Linked DNA regions of Homo sapiens. The protein of the gene in region 2 interacts with the protein of the main gene of each other region in a pairwise test. Each region holds a gene or a part of one and is shown on either strand. Other genes may lie near its edges.

Region 1 (3,500 bases), on a different chromosome or scaffold from region 2:
CTCTGCAGCCCTTCCAGCTCTTCCTGGAGCAGCCCGTTGGTCTCTCTCATCTCCCTGGCAGTGCCACAAAGAGTCGCTCAAATAGCCACACACCCTAGGGATAAGGCCAAGAGCCCGGGAGCCCTGCCCCTACAGGGTCTGCACAGTGGGCTCCATGTGCACAAACCCAGACTCACTCGAGGCGGCTGCCCCATCCCCCGCAACCCCTCACCGCAGGTGCGCGCTCTCCTCCCGCAGCTGCTTCAGCTCCCGTTCCAGCCTAGGGAGCCGTACCAGCTCAGACTTCATGTTCTTCACAATCGCTGCATCCTGCTCTTGCAGGGACAGCTTCTGCTCCAGATCCTGATGGAGGCCAGGGACAGAGAAGAAGGGAAAAATGAGCCACGAAGAGACCTGGAGAAAATCACACGCACACGGCTAAGAGAAGGAAGCCGGTCTGCAACGGCTATACACACTGCAGGATCCAACCACAGGACGTTCTGGGAAAGGAAGGGGTTGTCAAGGGCTCAGAAGGAGAGAGGCAGGGATTGACTGGGGGAGCAGAGAGGATTTTTAGGCAGTAAAACTTTTCTGTGTGACACTCTAATGGCAAATATAGAACATTTTACATCTGCCCGAACCATACACTGTCCCACTCCAAGAGTGACCCTCGCATGACCCGTGGACTCTGCGTGACACTGATGTGTCCAGGCAGGTTCATCACCGTCACACGTGCTCCACTCTACCAGGGTAGGCTGTGTGTGTAGGAGCGGGCGCAGGGGGTACACAGGAGCTTTACCTTCTGCTCATTTTGCTGTGAACCTAAAATTGCTCTAGAAAATACCATCCATTAAAAATTAAAGTCATTGAGGTCACAAAGTTCCTTCGCTAAACTGCCCCAGGTCCTCAGCAGCCTCCATGCCTCAGGACTCTCCTGTGGGAGGCCTTCCTGGGCTGCACCAGGGGCCTCGAAGCTGCTTCCAATACTGAGCCTCAGCATCCACTCCAGGGCAGCTCTTCCCAGCGCCGACCTCCCAGCCCTCCGCGTACTGGGAGCTGGCATTCACACTGCACACTGCCGGGCTGCTGTGCTCACCACCTGCCCTCGGGGAGCTCTCCAGGAGCAAAAGTCTGTCTCAAGTCTGGTCCAGGATGGCACTCCATGGTAAAACATCCCACCCCTCCCGTGTCAAGCCCACTTCTGCCACTCTAGCAGCACGTGTGACAGCTCAGTCTTTCCAATAGTGAGGACAGGCTTTTCCCTACGGTACCCAGTCCCCTTGGGACACAGACAGCTGGCATCTGTGAGCAGCAAGTCACTGAACAGGCAGAGTATGAAACCACGACCAAACCAGACGGTCATTCAACAAACACTAACAGAGTCCATCGCCCTGCCAGCCAGAAAATCCTGAGAGGTGGACTGAGGGCTGCGAGGGGCCAGGGACCACCACCAGGAGCGGACATGGCAGAGGCCAGGCTGGGGGTGCCGGGCAGCTCTGCAGCCAGGAAGAGCTGGTGTGAAGCCTGGAGGTGAGGGTGCATAAGGGCTGAGAGGGCACGGCCAGAGCACAGGGTCTGGAGGCTGCTCTCCAGGCAACAGGAGGCAGGAGAGGGATCTGGAGTCAACGTCTCCCTGGCACGTCCTCCGCAGGGAAATGGCACAGCCTGAGCTTGAGTCAGATGCCCTGACTGAGACCCAGCTCCAGCTGTGCAACTGTGGGCAGCTTTCTCAACCTCTCTATGCCTGTAGCATCTTCTCACGCTCATCAGCACTTGACGTCATCACACACACGGACATTTTCTCTTGGTGTTTGTGGTCAGTCTCCCTCCTCTAGAATACACGCTCCCAAGAGCGGAAGCATCTGCCTCATTCACCATGGCATCCCTGGTGCCCAGCACAGTGCCCAACACACAGGGCAGCAGCTAACCTCACAGAAGGACCACGGAGCTCGGCACCAGCGCAGAAAGGCCGACAGGGGCAGGAGAGTCAAGGCCACCACAGGGATGTCCACAAGGCACTGACAGGGAGTGACTCACCTTAATCTGCTGCTCGTGGTCTGCTCTTGCTTCTTGGCTGGCCTGGAGTTCCTGGATTTTCTGATTGGCTTCCTGGCATTTTCTATTGAAAGAAAAATACATCACACACAGAAACAGGCATGCGGCAAGGCCAACAATTCTCCTCAGCCTGAGACCCGCCCCAGCACAGACCCACATACGTTCATTCCCACCCCAAGGTTCAGGACCTCCCACGGCACAGACCCCCCGCCCCCCGCCAACACACACTCCACTGCATGGGTACCCCAAGGTCCCAGGCCCCAGCCCCTGTGGGCTGGCTCTCAGGCCTCAGTCTGCTCATTCAGACGGGGTGCGTAGTGAGCCCAGGCCACCTGCAAGGACCTCTCCAACAGTGGAACCCACAGCTCTCACCTGCCTGCGGCAACCCCCAGCCCTGGTGCAGCTGCGGTAGGGCCCCACCCAGGAATGACCTCTCCTCTCTACTACGGAACTAGAACTCTCCTAAAACCACATCTGCTGATGGAAGGGTCCAAGTCTGCAGGAGATGCCCACAGTCTCCTGACTGCACCTCCAGACAAGGCTCTCACGTCTGTGCCTCGGCTCAGCCCTGTGCCTGGACATCCCTTCCCAGCCACGCCCCCTCCACCTCCAAGGCACATGATGCTGCCCTTTCAACCTAGCCCTCAGCAGGGTACGGCGGCTCAGCCTGGGATCCCAGCACTCTAGGAGGCTGAGGCAGGAGGATCGCTTGAGGCCAGGAGCTCAAGACCAGCCTGGGTTACAAAGCGAGACCGCCATCTCTACAAAACGTTTTTTAAAATTAGCCAGGTGCAAAACTAATCCCAGCTACTCAGGAGGCCGAGGCAGGAGAATCACTGAACCCAGGAGGCGGAGGCTGCAGTGAGCCGAGATGGTGCCACTGCACTCCAGCCTGGGTGACACAGCGAGACTCAATCTCAAAAAAAAAAAAATTAGCCAGGTGTACTGCACATGCTTGCAGACCCAGTTACTCGGGAGGCTAAGGCAGGAGGATCACTTGAGCCCAGGAGGTTGAGGCTACAGTGAGCCATGATTACACCATTGCACTCCAGGCTGGACGACAGAGTGAGACCCTGTCTCAAAAAATAAAGTAAAATCTGGCTCTGCAGGAGCCCTCTCTAAGAAGGAGGGGGAGGAAGTTGCTGCCCCCATTCTGCTCCAGGAACATCAGGACACTTTCTGGGCTCACGGTCCTGGCTCCAGAGGCCTCAGCATCTGCCCCTCTTGAGTGTCTGTGAATTAGGACAGCATCTGGGAGTGTATCCACATCCCACCCAGCCACCAGGAGAGAGGTGGGACGCATGCCCCCACACGTGACCCGACCCCCGACCCCACACCCTGGCCCCGCCCACTTGTGTTGCAGGTCCAGCTGCTCCTGCAGCTCCTGCTTCTCCGACTCCAGGCGCTTCACCCGCATCTCCTGGTCCATCACGCTCCACTGCAGTTCCGAGATCCTCCCCTTCAGT
Region 2 (3,500 bases):
TCAAGTCTCCAACTTCAAGAATTGTACAAATATGACTGTGACATCGCTTAAAAATACAGGAAAATTAAAAAAATTGTACAAATAAAATGAATCATGTCTATGACTTATTAATGGAACTTCAGTGGCAACTCAGAGGTATGTGACCCTTCGGGAGGTGACAACACTCCAGATCTGTGAGTGGCCCATGGGCCTGGGAAGAGCGGGAGCCTAGCCTGGAAGGCAGCAAGTCCTGCTTCTCTTTACTTACAGCCCCCTGCTGTCCCAAAGCCTTGGAAATCACACACAGAGAACACAGGTGTTCCCAAGGATTAAAAGGAAATAAATGCTAAGTGGCAAAGTTTATAAAGATGTTGACAAGAGTATTAACTTTGCTTAAAAAAAAACTAAAATCAGCCGGGCGCGGTGGCTCACGCCTGTAATCCCAGCACTTTGGGAGGCCGAGGCAGGCAGATCACCTGAGGTCAGGAGTTCGAGACCAGCCTGCCCAACATGGCGAAACCCTGTCTCTACTAAAAATACAAAAAATTAGCCGGGCGTGGTGGCAGGCGCCTGTAATCCCAGCTACTCAGGACGCTGAGGCAAGAGAATCACTTGAACCCAGGAGGCAGAGGTTGCAGTGAGCCAACATCATGCCGCTACACTCCAGCCTGGGCGACAAGAGTGAAACTCCATCTCAAAAAAAAAAAAAAAAAACAAAATACTAAAATCTCTTAGACAATTTTCCAGTTTATCAACACAGGTTTGCCAACTTAAACATCATCAAGACACACTGTTTTTCAGGCTGGATGTGGTGGCACATGCCTGTATTCCCAGCACTTTGGGAGGCTGAGGCAGGAGGACTGCTTGAACCTAGCAGTTTGAGGCAGCAGTGAACTATGATGCCACCACTGCACTCCAGCCTGGGCAACAGAGCAAGACCCTGTCTCTTAAAAAAACTTACCTAGCAACCTGTAATGGCAGCTTCCAATTAAACAGAAAAGGCAGCAAGTATCTAGCCAAATTACTTTATGGAAAAAGACTTATAAAAATATAGACCCTTGGAATATCCATGCAATGGAATATTCAGCCATCAAAAGGAACAAAGTACTGATACATGCTCAAAACATGAAAAGTGAAAGAAGGCAGACACAAAACGTCACATAATACATGTGATTCAACTTATATGAAATGTCCACAACAGGTAAATCCATGGAAACAGAATGGGGAGCAACTGTTTAATGGGTACAGGGTTTCCTTTTCGGGAGGATAAAAATGTTTTGAAACTAGACAGAGGTGATGGCTGCATAACACTGTGAATGTACTAAGCATAACTGAATTGTTCATTGAAATGGTTAATTTTATGTTATGTGACCTTCACCTCAATTAAAACAATTTTTTTTTTTTTTTTTTGGTAGAGACAGGATCTTGTTATGTTGCCCAGGTTGGTCTCGACTCCTAGGCTCAAGCTATCCTCCCGCTTCAGCCTCCCAAAGTGCTGAGGTTACAGGCATAAGCCATTGTACCCAGCCAAGATAATTTTTTTAGTTTAAAAAGTTTTCTAAGGCCAGGCGTGGTGGCTCATGCCTGTAATCCCAGCACTTTGGGAGGCCGAGGCAGGTGGATCACGAGGTCAGGAGATCGAGACCATCCTGGCTAACACGATGAAACGCCGTCTCTACTAAAAATTCAAAAAATTAGCCGGGCATGGTGGCGGGTGCTTTAGTCCCAGCTACTTGGGAGGCTGAGGCAGGAGAATGGCGTGAACCTGGGAGGCAGAGCTTGCAGTAAGCCAAGATCGCATTACTGCACTCCAGCCTGGGCGACAGAGCAAGACTCCGTCTCAAAAAACAAAGAAACAAAAAAAGTTTTCTAAAAAAATTAAGACAAGTAAAAACAAAAAATAGAGCTCTGGAAGAAAAGCAAAAATAATAAAAATGTATTCTGGAAAAGATTAAGTTGGATGGGGAAGGGGATTTAATGTCTTCAAGTATATGAAAAACTGCTGTGCAGAAGGTGAAGGTAACCATGTTCACCTTTAATGACACCTGATTCTTTAGTAACAGAATTGTAATAAAAAAGAATTATGCTAACACATAAAGAATCTCTGTTCCTACTTTAAGTGCTATTACCCTCAACTGAAATTTGTAATCTTGCTTTTGGATATGGAGAGAGATATATATATATTTCTATATATATATTTCTATATTTATATATATATTTATATTTATATATATATATATATATAAATTTATATATTTTATATATATATATATTTTTTGTTTTCTTTGAGACAGCCCAGGCTGGAATACAGTGGTGCGATCTTGGCTGACTGCAACCTTCACCTCCTGGGTTCAAGCAGTTCTCCTGACTCAGCCTCCTGAGTAGCTGGGATTACCATGCCCAGCTAATTTTTTGTATTTTTAGTAGAAACGGGGTTTCACGATGTTAGCAAGACTGGTCTCGAACTCCTGACCTCAGGTGATCCGCCTGTCTGGTCTTCCAAGGTGCTGGGATTACAGGCGTGAGCCAACACGCCCTGCCGGTTTTTGGATGTATTTCAAAGGCATTTAGTCTGGAACCCTTGGGTGGACTCAGTTCAGACCTTTGTTTCCAGTAAATGATTGTTCCTCACCTGCCTCAGGTGAGGACAGAGGCTTCTGCTTACCTTCTGACTGTTCCCCTGGTCTTTGGTGTGAGCTCTGTGATCCCTTAAAAGTCGGTTCCTCTGGCTGAACCTCCTGTTTCCATTGGGATCTCAGTGATTCTCTGGTTGCTCCCAAAGGGGCCATCTCCTTCATGAGTACTTTCAAGTCCTTCTCAGAATCTAGAACCTGAGAACAGACCCCATTATCTATCACTACAAATTCCTGCCTAAGCTGGACTTTACAACTCCTAAGAGTGGCATTAAAAAATGTGTAACATAAGGAAGCAGAAGAGAAAAATCTAGGAGCCACTGTATTGCTGCTGTAATAAAATAAAAATTAATAGAATTAGGTATTTGAGGGGCAGTAGCTTACGCCTGTAATCCCAGCACTTTGGGAGGCCGAGGCAGGTGGATCACGTGAGGTCAGGAGTTCAAGGCCAGCCTGGCAACAAGGTGAAAGAAACCCCGTCTCTACTAAAAATACAAACATTAGCTGGGTGTAGTGGTGTGAATCTGTAACCCCAGCTATTTGGGAGGCTGAGGCAGGAGAATCACTTGAACCCAGGAGGCGGAGGTTGCAGTGATCCAAGATCACGCCACTGCACTCCAGCGTGGACAACACAGCAAGACTCTGTCTCAAAAACAAAAAAAAACTCTTTGAAGTGGTTAAGATTATTTATATGACAGCACCTAGCATAGAGCCTGACACACCAGAACTGTTAAAAACTGAAATATATTTGTCAGAAGAGAGAATGTCAGCTTTCACTTTAGCAAACCCCCATGACTTCAGCACTAGGCCATTTCCTCTGCCCCCCAAATCCAGTATCAGTTCTGTCTTCAAAAGAGACCTCGCATTGGTCCTCTCTCTTCACCTCAT

What was found. The genes of interacting proteins can lie anywhere in the genome.
Region 1: the proteins of ZSCAN32 (region 2) and MAD1L1 interact in binary tests that used the Homo sapiens proteins (3 or more experiments, as listed by UniProt).

Annotation. Positions count from the first base shown.
Region 1 is NC_000007.14:2,215,946-2,219,445, forward strand, and holds part of MAD1L1 (mitotic spindle assembly checkpoint protein MAD1), read right to left. Parts: coding exon 3,387-3,500; intron 2,099-3,386; coding exon 2,017-2,098; intron 343-2,016; coding exon 212-342; intron 55-211; coding exon 1-54. UniProt on the Homo sapiens protein: Component of the spindle-assembly checkpoint that prevents the onset of anaphase until all chromosomes are properly aligned at the metaphase plate.
Region 2 is NC_000016.10:3,391,005-3,394,504, forward strand, and holds part of ZSCAN32 (zinc finger and SCAN domain-containing protein 32), read right to left. Parts: intron 2,811-3,500; coding exon 2,645-2,810; intron 1-2,644.